Linked DNA regions of Homo sapiens: regions 2, 3 and 4 are each linked to region 1. The links come from fine-mapping of genetic effects on gene expression. A gene starts in region 1. Each other region holds a variant in brackets. All regions are shown on one strand. Distances are from middle to middle.

The links. PIP is the estimated chance that this variant, and not a neighbour inherited with it, causes the effect. A credible set is the group of variants that fine-mapping cannot tell apart.
Region 2: its variant is the best candidate, but not a certain one, in a credible set for the expression of ECHDC1 in whole blood (INTERVAL, PIP 0.50).
Region 3: its variant is the best candidate, but not a certain one, in a credible set for the expression of ECHDC1 in whole blood (INTERVAL, PIP 0.50).
Region 4: its variant is the best candidate, but not a certain one, in a credible set for the expression of ECHDC1 in whole blood (INTERVAL, PIP 0.55).

What each region holds. Positions count from the first base shown.
Region 1 is chr6:127,341,678-127,346,830 of GRCh38, forward strand. ECHDC1 (ethylmalonyl-CoA decarboxylase 1) reads right to left here and starts at 1,932. Exons shown (of 6, transcript NM_001002030.2): 1 at 1,659-1,932. RefSeq lists enhancers at 1,217-2,090, 2,965-3,838.
Region 2 is chr6:127,366,444-127,371,596 of GRCh38, forward strand. No RefSeq gene overlaps it. Among named protein-coding and RNA genes, the nearest start is that of ECHDC1, 25 kb to the left of the region's middle. The variant T/C (reference allele first, on the strand shown) is at 2,752.
Region 3 is chr6:127,372,554-127,377,706 of GRCh38, forward strand. No RefSeq gene overlaps it. Among named protein-coding and RNA genes, the nearest start is that of ECHDC1, 32 kb to the left of the region's middle. The variant TG/T (reference allele first, on the strand shown) is at 2,738.
Region 4 is chr6:127,313,994-127,319,146 of GRCh38, forward strand. ECHDC1 (ethylmalonyl-CoA decarboxylase 1) reads right to left here. Exons shown (of 6, transcript NM_001002030.2): 4 at 2,457-2,509; 5 at 823-903. It overlaps LOC105377994 (a long non-coding RNA gene), which reads left to right and starts at 2,992. Exons shown (of 4, transcript XR_001744334.2): 1 at 2,992-5,153. It also overlaps the pseudogene RNA5SP217. The variant A/T (reference allele first, on the strand shown) is at 3,210.

The DNA.
Region 1 (5,153 bases):
GCACTTCCCATTTTTTTCAAGTTCTGCAAAGGTGATCTGTTTCCCTTTAGTGCACAGGAAATAAGTGAGATGTTCTCTAAAAGCCTTTACCTGTTTCACCTTATACTGTAATCACTAAATCCAGAAGACTAACGCAAACTCATACTTAAAAAGAAAACAATTAGCCTAGAGCACGTAATAGAAATCAGAAGCATTTGATTTCAGACTGTCTGTATATCGCCTGTTTGTAAAAGTTCTGATTCGGTTGTAGGCTGTCATAACATAAACTACCTTTCAAGGTTCATTACATGCCACCCACAACTCTCTCCCTCACACAGCCAAAATGCACAACTTTCAGTTCCTGAAATCCTTTTGATTTTTTCGCCATCTCAAGCTTTCGCATATGCGATCTACCTGTTACATTTTTGTCTTCCTCAGAGTAACTTCAAATCATCTCCTCTAACATAGGACTACATAAAGTCCCCTTATTGTCTGCTCTCAGAACATCTGTATCTCTCATCACCACTCTCACTCACTCTTTGCTGTAATTAGTTTTTTAACCAGTTCTTCCCATTAGTCTTAGCTGCAAGAGGGCATTTGCAGTGCCTAAAGATAATATTCTTAAGACTAAACAGGGGCTTAAGAATCTGGCCACAAATCAACTCTCCAACTACCCTGTTTATAATCCTCACAACTCACCCTGTTTCAATGCCATGCTTCTTCACAGGCTGGCTTCCCTTCCTGGAATGTTAATCATTGCAGGAATCCCAGCTGATTATACAGTCGCCTTTCAGGCCAGAACCCAATAAAAAATCAAGAAAGGATCGCCCGTTCTATTACTGCGCTGCTCCCTCCCCTCGTAGATTTCACAAATATACTTCTCACCACAAGCTTGTCTGTTCCAAGAGAATGCTAGCTCTTCTAAAGAAGGAGCCCTTTGTTTTCCTTGCCCTTGTCCAGTTCCTCTGCATACCTCTAGCACCTAGAGCAACAACTGCTATACAGGAGCCCAGATGTGGAACAGAGCAAAGAACTGAGTGTTGATTTAATGTTGCCTGAAGTCCTTAACAGCACCTTCAACCTAAACTTAACTGTGTTTTTAATCCCCTACACGTGTAATCCCTGTATGTGTGCGCAGCGTTAAAAGGATTATTGTAGCTCAAAAATTCTCCAATGAAAGAACCTCTACCAGAAAGGAGTTGCTCATCTTTCGTTCTTGAAAAGTTGGCTGCACGATACAAGTAAGAAAAGTTTTAGTTAGGCAAGACAACTTATACATAAAAGACAATTATAGGGAACATTACCTAACTTAGCACAGGGCCTCGAATGTATTCCGAAATTAAATCAGCATGTAGAAAGCAAGCCTCCTCATGCTTTTTAAAGTGTAATCTCGCGACCTCGCGGCGCGCTCTGGGAAGACCGATTCATCTCTTCCCCTCGCCCTCTTTCCCCGGCCGGCGCACAGCCGGCCCGTGGCGCTCGGCACCGCGTCTCCACGTCCAGCGCGGGGCAGGCCTGCGCGGCGCTTGCAAGGGACAAGCCGCGGAGCCGGGGAGGCTCGCCGTCTGGGACACGTTTGGAGAAGCGAGCGGTACAGTCCATTCCACGGCGACATTTTAGGATTCTCCCACTGACAACACTAAACTGAAGCGCTAAGACCAACCCTTACGACCACTTACCGTCGCAGGCCACGGTGGTGACTTCCTTTTCCGCTCCCCTACACACGCTTTTCCGTTTTGCGTGCCTTTGTTTCCGCTCCCCCCGGGACCATCGTGCGCCCCTGTCCTCCGTTCTTGTAGGTCCTCTCCTCTTCTCCGCGTCTTCTCTTTTACTATCCCACGCTCTCCTTTCCTTTCTCCGGGAACTTTATCCCGTTCCCCTGCCGGTTCCCGTGACCCCGGAAATCCCGCTCCTGCCGCGAGGCGCCCTCCGCTTCGCGCTCCCTCGTGTCACGAGGGAGCCAGGGTGGGCGGTCTCCTATTGTACTTGGCTTTTGAATTTTCGCTTTTGCAGCACAAAGGTAGGGCTGGGAAAGGAGGCTGCCGAACCGTGCTTGTTTTCGCTCAGATAAACGTGAGAAAAAGTGGAGGTGAGGAAGCCAGTGTAGGCAAATAGCGAGAGGGGAGAAGACAGAAAGGTACCGAAGGTCGACCTTTTTTAGGTATCTTATCCAAGTTATTGAGGGGAATGGGTATTTAGCCAGTTTTTTGTTTGTTTGTTTTTATCCGAATATCCAGTGTGTGTCTTGAATGTGTGAATGTGACGTGTTTATAAAGCTCAGTAAGCTTAAAATTCCGTGCCAATACATTTTGTATGCCGCAGACAGGAAGTGCTTTGGAAGACCCTTGAAAGGGGAGGTGATTTTACACCAATATTGAGATCATTTTGTCAGAGTCGTGGGACTAAAGGTAGACCTTAGGTAGTCGATGTCAAAGATAAGCGCAGCTGGACGTTAAAGCGGTGAAAACATTCAGTTAACTACTGACAGGAAAGAGCTGAGCTCTATTTCGATTCGTGCAGAGATCATCTGGGCATTTTTAAAGGGACGTTTTAAAAGGAGAAAGGGGATATGCGGGCGCTCAGTAGAGAAAGTGAACCTACAGAGTTGTTAGTGTAAATGTGATTAGGCCAGCTGTGTGTTTGTGTGTGCGCGCGTTTTAACAGTTACCGCAGGATTCTATCCTCCTACGGAGGATTTTATCCTTCTCGATTACATTTCAAAGGAATGACTCTCTGGTCCTTGAGAGAGAACTTCTGAGTGGCAAGAAATAAGTCTTTACAATTGCAAGCCCTTTAGTAAACGTTCTAAGAAAGGGATGTCAGAGACCTATCATCAGTTGTGTGCTGGTTACATCACGTAGTTAAGCTTTCTGAGGCAGTCGCCCTGGGCACAGGGCCTTATGCTGCTAAAGCTTGCTAGAGTTTGGTCAAGTCTCTGAACGCAGGGGTTTAGATGGGATGGTCATGTTCCTGGAGTTCTGCAGTGGTCATAGGTATGATTTGAATAAGTACAGGGAATATTCTAGTCGGAGGAACAGAATGTGCCAACGCGCCGAACAGGGAGGATAGTTTTACGATACGGAGATGTGTATGATAGGGAATAAGTGGGAGCCCAGTTTGGACTAATTGGAAGAAGTCATTATTAGAAGTACTGTATTTAATTCTAGTTTGTTATAAAATGAGACTCCAAGATCACTGAGCCATTTCACTGAGACTCCAAGATCACCCCAATGCTAGGCTAATCTCCATGGCGCCTAGATCTATGCCCACTCCATTCCCCATGTTGGTCCCCATAGTTTCAGGCACCAGGCTCCAACACCAGGTTGGGCCCTACAGCCCCAGTCTCCAGGTTGGCACCAGTGGATATAGGCTTTAGGTCCACTGACTGCTGGTCCCTACAGCCCCAGGTTCCAGTGAACCCAGGTTCCAGGCCTGCTCCAACAAACCCAAGGTCCAGGTCTACCCCAGTAGACCCTGGCACCAGAACTACCCCAGAGGGCCTAGCCTACAGGCTACCACCCACAAACCCAGCCTCCATGATGGCCTCTGAAGAATCAGGCTTTAGGTCTTCCCCAGCACCAGACTAGACTGCTAGACTGATGTTCCACTTTTGTCCCCATGGACCCAGGCACCAGGCCCATCTGAGAGGTTTCTTCAGTTTTATTTTTCAGTAATAACTTTCATTCTTCTTTCTCAGTGATAACTGTAGTACTCAGTGGGCTTTCTATTTCTGGCTCCCATTTTCCATCTTTCTTTTTAACACTTTGGGAAAATATCCAAGTTAAACTCTATATAGTGGGGTAGGTGGACAATGAAAGATAAGTAAATACATAATATGTATAATCAACGGAGTGAAAAGACAGCCTGCAGAATGGGAGAAAATATTTGCAAACTATATATCTGACAAAGGGTTAATATCCAGAGTATATGAAGAAGTCAACTCAATAGCCAAAAAAAAAAAAAAAAAAATCCAATTTAAAAATGAGCAAAAGGCCTGAATGGACATTTCTCAAAAGAAAACATGATGATGACTAACAAATATATGAAAAAATGCTCAGCCAGGCACAGTGACTCACACCTGTAATCCCACACCTTGGGAGGCCAAGCAGGTGGATTGCTTGAGCCCAGAAGTTCAAGACCAGCCATGGGCAACATGGCAGAACCCTGTCTCTACAAAAAATCACAATTGGCTGGGCAATGTGGCATACACCTATAGTCCTAGCTACTCAGGAGCCTGAGGTGGGAGGATCACTGGAGCCCAGGAGCTTGAGGCTGCAGTGAGCCATGATCACACCACTGCATTCCAGCCAGGGTGACAGAGCAAGACTCTCAAAAACAAATACATACATTTTTAAAAAATTAAAAATAAATAAAAATAATCATAGGGGAAATGCAAATCAAAACCACAATGAGATATCACCTCATACCTGTTAGAATGGCTATTATCAAAAAGACAAAAAATAACATGCCCATGCATATGTGGAGAGAAATACTTATACACTGTTGGTAAGAATGTAAATTACTGGCCAGATGCAGTGGCTCACGCCTGTAATCCCAGCACTTTGGGAGGCTGAGGTGGGCGGATCCCGAGGTCAGGAGGTCAAGACCATCCTGGCCCACATGCTGAAACCCCTTATCTACTAAAAATACAAAAAAATTAGCCAGGCATGGCAGCACATGCCTGTAGTCCCAGCTAAACCTGGGAGGCAGAGGCTGCAGTGAGCCGAGATCACACCACTGCACTCCAGCCTGGGTGACACAGCGAGACTCCGTCTCAAAAAAATAATAAATAAACAAAAGAATTTGAATTACTCTAGCCATTATAGAAAACAGTATAGAGGTTCCTCAAAAAATTAAAAACAAAACTGCCATATGATCCCACAATCCCACGCCTGGGTATATATCTGAAGGAAGTAAAATCAGTATGTTGCAGAGATATCTGCACTCTCATGTTTATTGCAGCACTGTTCATAAGAGCCGAGATATGGAATCAACCTAAGTGTCCATCAGTGGATGAGCGGATAAAGAAAATGTGGTATATACATACAATGGAATACTATTCAGCCATTAAAAGGAATGAAATCCTGTCATTTGTGGCAACATAGATGGACCTGGAGAACATTAAGTGAAATAAGCCAGGCACAGAAAGACAAATATCACATGATCTCATGCAG
Region 2 (5,153 bases), 25 kb after region 1:
CACCAATCACTGCCGTCTCCACTGTCTTCCTCCCTTCGCTGGTCACCAGATGATGCAAGACAGGCAAGCCCCAAAATTCAGTCTTAGCCCGGGAGGGTTCTTGGCTTAGCCCAGGAAATAATTCAAGGGTGAGTCAGTGGTATTAAACAGCAACTTTTATTAAAGTGGCAGCATACAGCAGCAGCAGAAGTACTGCTCCTTGCAGAGCAGGGCTACTCCATACTCCCAGAATAACAGCTCAGAGGCAGTTTTGCAGTCATATTTATACCCACTGTTAATTATATTAAAATTAAGGGGTGGTTTATGCAGAAATTTATACCATGAGAGAGGTAACTTCTGGGTTGTCAGGTCATTGCTATGGAAAGGAATGTTAACTTGTTGCCATGGCAATGGTAAACTGACATGGCACATTAGTGGGCATGTCTTATGGGGAGGTGCTTCTGCCCCAGACCTGTTTTAGCTAGTACTCAATTTGGTCCAATGTCTGAGCCCTGTGTTGAGTCCTGCCTCCTAGCTCATTTTTAAGGTTCATTTAAGCCATAGCATGTATCAGTACTTCATTCCTTCTAATTGGCAAATAATATCCCATTTGTGGCTAAATCATATTTTATTTATCCATTTATCAACTGATAGGTATTTGCACTGTTCCACTTTTTAGCTGTTACAAATAAAGTGCTCCTATCAGCATTTGTGGATAAGTTTTTGTGTGGACATAAGCTTTCATATCTTTTGGGTACAAACCTAAGAGTGGAATTGCTGAGTCATATGGTAACTCTATATTTAACCTTTTGAGGGACTACCAAACAGTTTTGCAAAGTGGCTGTACCATTTTACATTTCCACCAACAGTGTTTCAATTTGTCCACAACTTCTCCAACACTTGATATTTCAGTCTTTTGTACTATAGCCATGTTAGGGAGTGCGAAGAGGTATCTCATTGTGGTTTTCATTTGTGTTTTCTTTATAGTTAATTGATTTTGGCATCTTTTAATGTATTTATTGGCCATTCGTATATCTTATTTGGAGACATGTTTACTTACATCTTTTGCCTATCTTTTAAATTATGTAATTTATATTTTAATTATTGACTTGTGAAGGTTCTTTTTATATTCTAGATACGAATCTCTTCTCAGATATATGACTGGTAAATATTTTTTTCACATTACATGGTTGTCTTTTTACTTTCTTGCTGGTGTCTTTTGGAACACAAATATTTTACATTATGATTAAGTCCAATTTATCTGTTTTTCTTTTGTTGCTTGAGCTTTTAGTGTCACATCTAAGAAACTGTTACCTACTACAAGGTCATGAAGATTTATTGTTATATTTTCTTCTAACAGTTTTATACCTTTAGCTCTTACATTTAGGACTTCGATTCATTTTGAGTACATGTTTGTATGTGGTATGATGTAGGGGCCTACATTCACTCTTTTGCATGTAGATATCTCACCATCCCAGAACCACTTTAAAAAATTTTTTATTTTTAATAGACACATAATGATAGTACCTATTTATGTGGTAAAATGTGATGTTTTGATACCTGTATACATTGTACAGTGATCAAATAAAGGTAATTAGCATACTCATCACCTCAAATATTTATCATTTATTTTTGGTAGGAACATGCAAAATCCTCTCTTCTTGCTCTTTTGAGATATACAATACTTTTTTGTTGATTATAGTCACCCTACTGTGCTATAGGACACTGGAACTTTTTCCTCCTTTCTAATTGTAACTTAGTACTTGTTGACCATCCTCTCCCCTTTCCCCCTTACCTCTACTCTCCCCAGTTTCTGGTGACCATTGTTCTGTTCACTACTTCTATGAGATTAACATATTTAGATTATGCATATGAGTAAGAACATGTGGTATTTGTCTTTCTGTGCCTGGCTTATTTCACTGAACATAATGTCTCCAAGTTTATCCATGTTGTAACAAATGACAAGATTTCCTTCCTTTTTATGGCTGAATAGTATTCCATTACATTATACCACATTTTCTTTATCCATTCACCCATTGTTGGACACTTAGACTGATTCCATATCTTGGCTATTGTGAATAGCCAATTAATGCAATAAACATGAGAGTTCAGATGTCTCTTCGACATACTGATTTCATTTCCTTCAGATATATAGCCAATAGTGGGATTGTTGGATCATATGATAGTTCTATTTTTAATTTTTCAGGAAGCTCCATACTGTTTCCCATAATGGCTATACTAATTTACATTCCCACCAACAGTGTATTAAGGGTTCTCTTTTCTCCACGTAATTTCTAACACTTGTTATCTGTTGTCTTTTTTATAACAGCCATTCTAACTGGAGTGAGGGGATGTCTCATTGTTTTTATTTGCATTTCTATGGTCATTAGTGACCAGGGTCATTATCCCGGATGATAAGTGATAGGTAGCATTTTTTAATATGTCTGTTGGCCATTTGTATGTCTTCTTTTGGAAAATGCCTGTTAAGGTCTTTCGGCCATTTTTTGAATGAGGTTTATTTTTTGCTTGTTGATTTAAGGTCATTATATATTCTGAATAGTAATGCCTTGTCAATGTATAGTATCAAATATTTTCTCCCATCCTGTAGGTTGCCTCTTCACTCTGCTGATTGTTTTCTTTGCTGTGCAGAAGCTTTTTAGTTTGGCGTATCTCATTTGTCTATGTTTGGTTTTGTTGCCTGTGTTTTGAGGTCTTATCAAAAAAATCCTTGCCTAGTCCAATGTCATGAAGCATTTTCTCTATGTTTTCTTC[T/C]GTAGTTTCATAGTCTTGGGTCTTATATTTAAGTTTTTAATTCATTTTGAGTTGATTTTTGTATGGTGAAAGATAGGGGTACAGTATTCTTCTGCATATGGATATCCAGTTTCCTCAGCACCATTTATTAAAGAGATTGTCCTTTTCCCAGTGTGTGTTCTTGGCACCTTTGTCCAAAATCAGTGGGCTGTAGATGTGTGGATTTATTTCTGGGCTCTGTATTCTGTTCCACTGTTTTTTTAATGCCTGTTTTTCTGCCAATACATGCTGTTTTGGTTACCATAGGCTTGTAATATATTTTGAAGTTAGGCAGTATCATGCCTCCAGCTTTGTTGTTGTGGGGCTTTTTTTGCTCAAGATTAGTTTGGTTATTCAGAGTTTTTTGTCATTCTATATGAATTTCAGGATTTCTTTTCTATTTCTGTGAAGGATATCATTGGAAATTTCACAGAGATTACAGCGAATCTCTACATACTTTGGTATAATATGGACATTTTAACAATATGAATTCTTCCAATCTATGAACATGGCTATCTTTCTATTTATTTGTGTTCTCTTCAATTTCTTTCATCAGTATTCTATAGTTTTTACCTCTCTGGTTAACTTTATTCCTAGGTATCTTATAGATTTTTGTAGCTATTATAAATGGAGTTGTTTTATTTCTTTTTCAGATTGTTCACTATTAAGGTATAAAAATGCTATTGATTTTTGCATATTTACTTTGTACCCTGCAACTTTAGTGAATTCTCTTATTAGTTCTAACAGTTTTTGGTAGAGTCTTTTGGTTTATCTCTACATAAGATCATATTGTCTGCAAACAGACAATTTGACTTCCTCCCTTCCAATTTGGAAGACTTTTTTCTTTTGTGTAATGTCTATGGCTATGACTTCCAATATTATGTTGAATAGAAGTGATGAAAGTGTGCATTCTTGTCTTTCTCCAGATCTTAGAGAAAAAGCTTTTATCTTTTCTCTATTCAGTAGGATGTTAGCTATGGGTTTTTCATATATGGCCTTTATTGCATTGAGCTATGAAACTTCTATACACATAATTTGTTGAGAGGTTATGTTTATCTTGAAGGATGTTGAAGTTTGTTTCTTTAGTCTCTATTTATTTCTGCTCCAATCTTTATTATTATCTTTTTCTTCTGCTTTTTTAGGTTTTAGCTTTTCTTGTTCCATCTGTGCAATGTTAGGTCATTTATTTGAGATCATTCTTCATTTTTGATGTAGGTGTTTATTGCTGTAAAGTTCTATCTTAGAACTGCTTTCGCTGTACCCCATAGATTTTGGTATGTGTGTTGTTTCTATTTTTGTTTGTCTCATAAAATTTTTTAATTTCACTTTTAATTTCTTCATTGACTCATTGGTTATTCAGAGACACATTGTTTGATATCCATGTATTTGTAAAGTTTCCACAGTTCTTCCTATTATTGATTTCTAGTTGTATACTATTTTTACTAGAAAAGATACTCTGTATGATCTATAGCTTCCTAAATTTGTTAAGACATGTTTTGTGGCCTAACATATGACCTACCCTGGAGAATGTTCCATGTAAAGTTGAGAATAATGTATATGCCATGACTTTGGGGGTTAGGATTTCAGCATATAAATCATGGGGAACATAAACATCAAGTCAATTGCAGTAGTATTTCCTTATAATCCTTTTTAGTTCTGTAATGTTGCTAGCAATATTATCTCTTTTATTCCTGCTGTGGTCTGAATGCTTGTGTCTTTCCAAAATTTGTATGTTGAAAACCTGATCACTAACGTAATAGTGTTAGGATGTAAGGCCTTAGGGAGATGATTAGATCATGAGGTCAGGATGGGTTTAGTGCACTTATAAGAAAGGTTCCAGAGAGCTGGTTTCCCATTTTCAGCATATAAGGGCACAGCAAGAAAGTACTATCCATGAACCAGAAAATAGGTCCTCACCAAACACTAAATCTGCCTGTCTTGATATTAGGTTTCCTTGTCTCCAAAACTGTGAGGAATACATTTCTGTTGTTTTTAAGATATGCAGTCTATGGTAGTTTTTTAGAGCAACCCAAACAAACTAAGACAATTCTGAATTTTGATAACTTGAGTTTTCTCTCTTTTTCTTTTGGTCAGTTTAGATAAAGTTTTGTCAATTTTGTTGATCTTTTCAAAAAGCTACATTTGGGTTTCATTAATTTTCATTAATTGTCTATTTAATTAATTTCTGATTCAATCTTTTTTTCTTCTGCTTGCTTTAAATTTACTTTTTAATATCTGAAGGTGATTATGAATTTCAAATCTTTCTTAATTTTCAAATATAGATGTTTATAGGCATAAATTTGCCTCCAAACACTGCTTTACCTGCTCTTCATAGATTTTGATATTTTGTGTTTTCATTTTTATTCATTTCAAAGTGTTTTTGA
Region 3 (5,153 bases), 31 kb after region 1:
ACCATGTTGGCCAGGATGGTCTCTGTCTCCTGGCTTTGTGATCCACCCACCTTGGCCTCCCAAAGTGCTGGGATTACAGGCATCAGCCACCATGCCCAGCCTTATTGAGTTATTTAATTTACTTACATTTAGTGTTATTATTGGTAAAACAGATTTAATTCTTCCACTTTTTGTTTTCTATGTCTCATGTCTTTTAGTTCCTTTGTTGTTTGCTTTTGTATTAATAAATATTGTCTAGTGTTATACTTTTTATTTCTTTAACAATTTTTTTAAGTTTTTTGTTTTTTCGTGGTTGCTCTAAGACTTGTCACATGCATCTTAACTTATCAGAACCTACTACAGAGTTTTACTGACAAGTCCAGTAAGATATGGAAATTTACCCCTGCATAGTTTTTCTTTTTCTGCCTTTTGCTGCAGTTATCATTACATATATTGCATTTAAGCATGTTACAAATGCAGCAATACATTGTTATAAGTATTAATTTATATAATTGTATGTCTTTTAAAGAATCAGAGAGCAGAAGAGAGCAAATGCTTATAGTTTTTGTCGTATTAACCATCTTATTTAGCATTTCTTCTCTTTGTTTATCTTGTAGATTTGGGTTATCATCTGGTATCACATCCTTACTCCAATACTGCTTTGCTCACACCCATATTCTTTGTAATATTATTAGTTTATATGTGTTATAGGCCTAACAATGAAATTATAAGCATACTGTTTTATTCATTTGTTTTGTAGATCAATTAAGAGAAGAATTAATATGCATTTATACTATCTTTACTACTACATAATTACCTTTAACCATGCTCTTTTTCTCTATTTTGCTTCCTTTTTTTTTCCTTTTTTTTTTTTTTTTTTTTTTAGATGGAGTCTTGCTCTGTCACCCAGGCTGAAGTCAGTGGCATGATCTTGGCTCACTGCAACCTTTGCCTCCCGGGTTCAAGCGATTATGCTGCCTCAGCCTCCCAAGTAGCTGGGACTACCGGCACATGCCGTCATGCCCGGCTAAATTTTGTATTTTTAGTAGAGACAGGGTTTCACCATATTGGCCAGGCTGGTCTCGAACTACCGACCTCGTGATCTGCCCGCCTCAGTCTCCCAAGTGCTGAGATTACAGGCATGAGCTACTGTGCCTGGCCTCTATTTTGCTTCTTATAAAATATGGTTTGAGGCCACTTGCTTTCATCCTGAGGAAGTTCCCTTAGTGAACCCCCTTTGCAAAAATTATATCAGCGGCAAAATTAGACAGTGAAAAAGACCTGATCTAGCCCACCCGTCCTCTTGCCTTTGCTTTCAAGCTGCCTCAATCATTCCTGGGCTTCGTCTGAGCTAACTTAGTCTGAACTAACTTTGGAAGGTTGTTTGTTTGTGTTGTTTTGTTTTTGAGACCATGCCCAGTTAATTTTTGTATTTTCAGTAGAGACGGGGTTTCACCATCTTGGCCAGGGTGGTCTTGAACTCCTGACCTCATGATCCACCCGCCTCGGCCTCCCAAAGTGCTAGGATTACAGCTGTGAGCCATCGTGCCTGGCCAGAAGATTGTTTAAATAACAGACCTTCCCCCAAAATCATCTGCTTTTATAAAGTTAATGGAAGGCCATCAGGCTAGGGGGCAGAGAGGAGACTGATTCTGCTAAGGTGTAGACATAGATTGCCAACTATTCCTGCAGATAATACTACTATTGCCGATTGGCCTTTTGAGATATCTTTTCAGTTTTTTTTTCACGTCTAACACTACCTGGACCCTCCAACCCTGCTCCTGTGGCCCCACCCAGAATTTATTCAGTACAAGAGGACAGCTTTGACCCCCTTTGATTTCATCTCCACCCCAACCAATCAGCACCAAGCCTAGCGACCTCCACCCCTTCACCCAAACTGCCTATGCAAAACCCCTAATTTAGAAGCTTTAGGGAGAATTATTGCAGTACTAACTCCATCTTCTGTGTGGTGTGGCTGGCCTGATGTCTAATTAAACTCTTTCTTTACTGCAATGCCATGGTCTGTCTTTGTGCAGGAGGCAGGAGGAACCCTTTGGGCAGTTACATTAGTATTTCTTATAAGATAGGATCACTAACAATTCTGTCAGTTTTTGTTTGTCTGGGATTGTCCTTGTTTCATCTTCGTTGTGCCGCTTTTAAGATGTTCTTTTTGGGCCAGGCGCAGTGGCTCACGCCTGTAATCCCAGCACTTTGGGAGGATGAGGTGGGTGGATCACAAGGTCAGGAGTTCAAGACCAGCCTGTCCAACATAGTGAAACCCCGTCTCTACTAAAAATACAAAAAATTAGCTGGGCGTGGTGGTGGGCACCTGTAATCCCAGCTACTTGGGAGGCTGAGGCAGGAGAATCCCTTGAACCCGGGAGGTGGAGGTTGGAGTGAGCCGAGATTGCGCCATTGCACTCCAGCCCAGGCGACAGCACAAGACTCCATCTCAAAAAATAAATAAATAAATAAATAAATAAAAATAAGTTCTTTTTGTCTTTGACTTTCAACCCTTTAACTATGATGTTTCTATGTATAGCGCTCTGCTTTTCCTACTTGGAGCTTGTTAACCCTCTTGGATATATATATATTGTTTTTCCTCAAATTTGGGAAATTTTTAGTTATTATTTCTTTGAATAGTTTTTTTCTACTCTTCTGGTAATCCTATTATATGTATGTTGGTGAGTTTCTTAGTGTCACACATTCCTCTGGGACTCTTTTTATTTTTCTTTATTCTTTTTTTCTTTCTGCTTTT[TG/T]GGTATTATTCTCTATTAGCCTGTCTTCATGCTTCAGGTTTGCTCATTTCTTCTTCTGCCAGTTCAAATCTGTAGTTGAGCCCTATAGTAATTTTTAAATTTTGATTCCAGTCAGTACTTTCAACCTTTCAACTTCAGGATTTCTATTTGGTCTTTTTTTTTTTTTTCTTGAGATGGAGTTTTGCTCTTGTTGCCCAGGCTGGAGTACAATGGTGTGATCTCGGCTCACTGCAAACTCCGCCTCCCAGGTTCAAGCAATTCTTCTGCCCCAGCCTCCCAAGCAGCTGGGATTACAGGCATGCGCCACCATGCCGGGCTAATTTTATATTTTTAGTAGAGACTGAGTTACTCTGTGTTGGTCTGGCTGGTCTCGAACTCTTGACCTCAGGTGATCTGCCCACCTGGGCCTCTGAAAGTGCTGAGATTACAGGCATGAGCCACTGTGTCTGGCCTGGTCCTTTTTTTTTTTTTTTTTTTTTTAGATAATTTATTTTTAATATATTCTCTCTTTAATGAGATATTACCATCATACATTTCTTTTCTTTTTTTTTTTTTTTGAAATGGAGTCTTGCTCTGTCGCACAGGCTGGAGTGCAGTGGCACAATCTCGGCTCACTGCAAGCTCTGCCTCCTAGGTTCATGCCATTCTCCTGCCTCAGCCCAAGTAACTGGGACTACAGGCACTCGCCACCATGCCTGACTAATTTTTTTTTGTATTTTTAGTAGAGACAGGGTTTCGCCGTGTTAGCCAGGATGGTCTCGATCTCCTGACCTCATGATCCGACTGCCTCAGCCTCCCAAAGTCCTGGGATTACAGGCGTGAGCCACCAGGCCCGGCCCTGTGTGTGTGTGTCACACATTTTTGTTGCTTTTCATGTCTCTTTTTTTTCTTTCTGAAAACTAGACACTTAAATAATATATTGTAGCAATTGTGGATATAATTGTCCCTCATTTCATGGTGCTTGTTATTATTTGCCTGTTTTTTCATTTAGCTTCTGATGGCACTATTTTACTGGGAAGCCTTTGATGTTGCTCCTTAGAGGGCACAACCTTGGGCATGGGAACATTCAGCTGAGATGAGAGCAGCTTTAGCAGTGCTCTCTTTGACTCTTTCCTTCATCACACCCAGCTGTTAGCCTTCTTTAATTCCTGGCTGATTGCCTTTTTAAATTTAAGATGCCCTTGGGCTAATTTTTGTATTTTTAGTAGAGACAGGGTTTCACCATGTTGGCCAGGCTGGTCTCGAACTCCTGATCTCAGGTGATCTGCCTAACTCGGCCTCCCAAAGTGCTGGGATTACAGGCCTGAGCCACAGTGCCCGACCTCCTTTACTTTCTTAATAAACTTGTTTTCACTTTACTTTATGGACTCACCTTGAATTCTTTCTTGCGTGATATCCAAGAACCCTCTCTTGGGGTCTGGATCAGGAAGGCTTTCCTGTAGCAAAGGCAGTGTCACAAAACAAGCTACTGCAATGGGCAAATGGAGCCTAATCCCATGGTGAAGCTCTGGAACGCCATGGAACACATGTGTAAAAGGCTGATTCTATTGAGGGCATGATGACAGCTGTGTTGTGACCCCATACAAGTGAGTCACTGGTTCAGGTCTGTTCCTGGAGACCATCAATTTGTGGGTACTTCTGGCTTGCCATGTTCTCCAGCCAAGTCTGAGGGCAGCTCTCTGATGCAAATGCAGTAACTAGCTGTCAGAAAACCTGCTGGCTTGCACGGAAGGTATGGTTCTGGACAGTGTGTCAACAGTGCCTGCTACACTGGGGAATTTTTCAAACAAACCAGCCCATGTCCTCCTCTTCCCCTCACTCACTAATGACCCTGAGTCCTGATCACCATTATGTACAGCAGAACAAAGAAGAGGTGTCAGTAGACATATTTTCTTCATAAAGATGCCCCAATGATGAATAGCCTATGTTTATTGGTTATGACCGTAGAAATGAAATGGAAAAGCTTCCACTGGGCCTGAAAGAGGCCACAGTGGGACTGGGAGACTGGAGAGGAGAGAAAAATCCTTTCTAAGCATTCTTGGAGGAATATGGTCATGGGTCAATAAGAAATGAATTGAAAGATTGTTGGAATAGAGGTAAAAATGGCAGAAATTCTTCTAGTCCAATCAGCACTTTTTGTCTTGTGACATAAAGTAACATTAGGCATTCTAAGAAAAAGAAGTGAAGATTGTGAGTATGAGAATTAAGATTTATGAAGTGATTTTGTAAGTTGGTGTAAGGTTAAACAGTCTAGAGATTCAAAGGTGCTGGAATGGAGGGAAGCACTCCAATGTACAAGCATGGAATTAGGCCAAATAGGTAGAAGAAGCCACAAAGGGCCTAATATAAGAATAAGAATATAGAAGGGATAAGAGATCATCTGATGACAATGATAATGGCCATGAATGTGGGAGG
Region 4 (5,153 bases), 28 kb before region 1:
AAGTGTCAAACTGGGATTCAGCCTAGGTCTACTAGACGTCAGTGCTCAGGCTCTTTACTGTTTTGCCATTTTACCTCTGATTGTGCTATATTTACTACCTTTTGCATTATAAAGAGGCTCCAGTATGTGAACCTGTACAGATAACTCACAGAGCATTGTATTGGTCTCCTTATAGCTAGCTGTGTTAGTAGGCCTTGGGAATGGTACTGAGAAAGCAGTTTAAACCATGTCTAAAGCATTAGATTTTATAAAATGTCATTTCTATATAATATAGCTATCAAATACTGAGAATAATTATTGGGAGTGAAGAGCTATTGGTCCCAAAGAACTTTCTCTATTTTTAGTCCCTAATCTTCCTGAAAGTCCCACAAAGTTGCTATAAATCACAGCAAAAAGAAGACAAAGGGATCTCAGAAAATCTCTTTTTATTGGTGAGAAGACAGCTACAGCAGTCTCTCTTTCTGCATTCTATTTTTCTTTTTTAATGTTGCTTACCTTTGTTTGTATAATTCTTTTGGATTTTTAAGTTTCATATATTTCCTTAGCTTTCCTTCCAGGAGTTTTGCTAATATGGATTTGCTCTATTCAAAATCTCAAAACCATGTGTTTTGTTAATTTTTTGAAAATGCATAGTAATGAAGTGATCATGAAATTTTATTAGATTAAAATTATCTACTTTAATGACTGACAAAAAGAAAACATTCAGAAAAGAAAATAGGTTTATCCTATTTAAGAATATATAAAATATTGATATTAAGGCAAAAATGAATTTGAGCAAGTTAATTATATTTGTGCAAGAAATTAATGAAATTTTCATCCTACCTGAAATCACATGCTGTAGTAAATTCTGCTCCTCCACCCAATGCCCAACCTTGAACCAGCGCAACACTTATTAAAGGAAGTCTGTATATTGAAGAAAAAACTGATGTTACTATTTTTAATTTCAATATTCATTTACAAATGTTATTTTTTAAAAAATCTTAAAATGCAGTGGAAACAAAATTATTGCACTGTCTTCATAAAAACAAACACACATCAAAGGATAGCAGAAGCTTGAACCTTTACATCATGAGAAGAAAAACAGTGTAATACTAAACATACAATAGTTCACAATAAATGCCACATAAGTTCATTAAAATACCTCCCTGAATCATTATATATTTTTAAGCTATAGCCATATTGTAACTTACTCCCAAATAAATGGATGCTTTTGTCTAATTTACAGCTCCTGGAACTTCTCAGCAGCTGGCTCTTCAGAATAATTCCATGTGATATTATCTTTGTCCATTTTTGTTGGTATCAGGTTAAAAGTTGGAAAATCAAGGCTATTTCCAAAGGTTGGAAATGTGTTACAGAAGATAGGGCTCCAAAACTGTGTTATGAAGTTTCCTTCAAAAATCTACTCATTGTTGCCTGAAATAATCCACAGACTAATCCTATATAAAGGCATGATTTTGCAGTAAAAATAAATCTTTTACCTTTCCTGTTTGCAAAGACCCACTTTGCAGGGGTGTGTGAATACAAGGTAAATCTAAAATGTTTTCCAAGATGGAATTTTTGTAGGTTCTGACCTACAATGCAAAGGTGCAGGTCTAAAGTAATTGAAAATTTCCTAATATACACTGCTCCCATGTAGAAAGGATTATTTAAAAAAATAATAACTTCAGATTTATCTATGAAAAAGTCAAATGCAATAGGAAAAGGAGGTGAATAGGGTTTAAACAATGAAGATACTATTTTAGAATAGTAATGTTATGATTCTATTACTCTCTCTAGACTCTCAGATACAATAGGTACCAAAAATACAGTAATGTCCAATTAATAACCTTGCTTAAATAAGAATTTCCTTACTTTTCATAATTTTAAATTTGTCTACATTCGGAATGTGAAAGTAGAAAGCTAATCAACCAAAACATGTCAGTTTGTAACCTCAAACATACCTTGATAGGCCAAGAAGAATTTTTCCTCTTTGCTTCTTTACCTAGGTGCAAAGTCAATTCATATTCCTCAGAAAGCTGTAAAAACTTTCCAATCCATAGTTCTTTTTCTCATCTCCTCTGGATACAGACCACTTCACCACACATTCTACTAATTTGGAATATTAGGTAAACTTTATGTGTCATGTCTTGATCAGTGTCTTTATTATTCTGCTCTAATACCAGTATTTAACTTTCCCAGTATCTATTCCTAAATACAGCTAGTTATATAAGCTCTTTAGGGGATATGTCTTAAATTTTTCTTATCTTTCATTTCTCTTATTTTTAAAATACATATGTATATACTTCATTAACATGTAATTAAATGATTATCCTCTACGGCACAAAAAAATAGTACATCATTAGAATAGATGTAATTTGAAAATTAGCTATTATTTCTTAACTAGTACAAATAATGGAATAGCAAAAAGCTATTTTTGGTCTTTTAGAAATCATATTTTAAAAAGAAGGCTGCATTACCTCATAAATCTTGTTAAGGTGTTTTGCATGAACATGCATACGGCCATTCCATCCTTTAAATAAAAATAAGCAGAAACACAAAGGTATAATGCAAATATATTACATTAAATTTTTTAAATTAAGGTTTTAGAAAGTAATGAAGCCAAAAATATGTCTTTTTTAAACAATGACATTTCCATTTAAAACTCTTTGATGTTGTCTGAAATGCAAATAATGCTGTATTTGACTGTTGATATCCTAGGGCTCCTTGAGCTCAGCTTTGCATGAGGTATTAGCAAAGATGTAGGGATAAGAGACAGATCACATACCCTAGATCACTATGGAGTTCTACTCAGGGTAATGACAGGGGAAAGGCATAAGATATACCCATCTGTTATCCTTAAGATGATAAACATATAAGAGAAGAAGGGAAAGAAGGGAAAAGTTATGTTAAGCTTTGATTTTTAAAAAAATATTTCTAAGGCTTTATCTTGGTATTGCCACAACTTATAATTTTCACAAACAAATTTCCTAAGAGTAGTCCAAACTCATTGCCTTGTCTTTTTTTTAGCTCACATACTTTCTTCAATCCAGTGTAATCTGGCCCTCTGCCTTATCCCAAAATCTCTCCTCAAAAGCTTTTAATAATCTCCTACTTGTCAAATTAAATGACTTTTCCTTATTCACCTTTTCTCTCTCCATAACACGTAGTATCTTTCTTTAATCAGTTTCTTCATTCTCATATTTGCTCTCACTTTCTAGCAACATTTACAC[A/T]CCTGGTTCTCTTATTTCTTTGTTTGTTCTTTTCCAGTCTTCTTCCTTGGCTCTTCTTATCCAGCTAATCCCCTAAATCCATGCAGTTTCAAAATTCTAATCCATGATTTTCTCTGTTCTTTATTTATAATTTCTTTTTTTTGGAAGTCTCATCTACTTCCATATAAAGTGCTAAAATCTACTAGACATTTTCACATTCTGATAGCACCTCAAACTCAGCACGGCAAAACCAACTGAAAGTAAAAGAACTGACTTTGAATCCTAGTGCTGCCACTTAATAACAACATGAAATTGAGCAAGTCATGACTACGTAATTCAGTTTCCTCATTCATAAGAAATGAGAAATTAAAAAAAATTGCACTATTTGACTTAAAGGATGTTTAGAAAGATGAAAATATACCTAGAAACTCTATAAAAGATTGCATAAGTGTTCTGTGTTAGTGGAAAAAGTTAGTGTAAGAGTTCTGAGCTAGCGGTCAATAAGGCTCAGATTTTTGGTACTATGTTTGACTTTCCCGTTTCACAATTCTCCCACACTCAGTTAGTTACCAAGTACTTCCCCTCGGATCTACCTTAGAAATATTTCAAATATCAATCCCTTCTTTTATATTTTTGCTGCTGCTGCATTAGTTCATACCTGTGTTACTCAAGCCTTGATTAGTACAGTAAGATGGCTTTGCTTTCTCCCACCCAAGGACTAATCAGACCCAACACTGATTAACTTCTGAGATCGGCAAGATTGGGTGCATTCAGGGTGGTATGGCTGGAGACAACAGCTTTGCTTCCTAACTGATTTCTGTATTTAATTTCTTTTTCCTCTTAAATATAATCTTCCATCCTGCTACCTGATAAACCTTCCTGTAGGATGATGATGTCTTATAGAATAAAACCTAAATTTCTTGGCAAGGCCACTTGATCCCAAACTATCTTATCAACTTTATTGATTACCATACCCCTCCTCCAAGCATCCTAATTTCACCACACAAACTATTTGCCATCCCTCTAACACCTTACACTTATTGTGGCTCCTGTGTCTTTGCTTTTATCATTCCTACTAGTTGTAATAGGCTGTCCTTCTCTCTACCTATTTCAAGGAATGCCCAGATCATATAATATTTTTCCATCAAGATTTTCTAAATCTCACAATAACAATTTTCTCTTTTGTGTTTCAACAGTATTTTTATTTTTATGCCTTAATTATAGTACTTATAAATTGTGTTGTATGAATATGTGTTTAGATGCATTATCAGACACATCATCTCTACAAGATGGGGACTAGAGAACCTAAGAAGTTCTCAATAATTTTGCCAGAGATACAGAAATACAACTATCAAAGTACAGGTATTATACAAAGTGCTTGAACAAACTCAGAAGAGTGTCAAAGAAGAAATTATTCATTTCAATTGGGATGGGGGTAGTTAGACAGGCTTTAGAGAGGAGAAGGGAAGGTGGCATTTGCTAGGTCTAGACAGTAAGTCCCTTGATGGTGACAGTATGCCTTCCCCCTCCTCAGACGCTAGTAAAATGTTTTGCACATAGTGTTTGTTGAACTTAAAAAAATTAGATGAATTTTAGATGGAGAACTATGTTGATTTATAAAACAAATGCAGTCAAGAAAAAGTAAAAGCCAATGTGGAAGGAATTTCCTAATCCAAAGCTGTTATCAGGAAGATCAGTGTATCTCACGAAGTGATGAGAAAATTAACACAGGCACGAGGAGCTAAAAAGCTTTCAAAGTAAACTGGTTTATTCTCTGCTAAAAACCTTTCCAATAAAATCTGTTCTATTACCTATATCAAGTAATTTTAATATGCATATTTGCTCTTGCTACATTTAGATTACATAAAATTCCAATGAAGTATCTAGAATTGGTAGAAATAAAGGTGAAGCAAATTATTAGCCTGTGTACTATTATAATTTTCATTCAAAAGACAAAAGGCACGC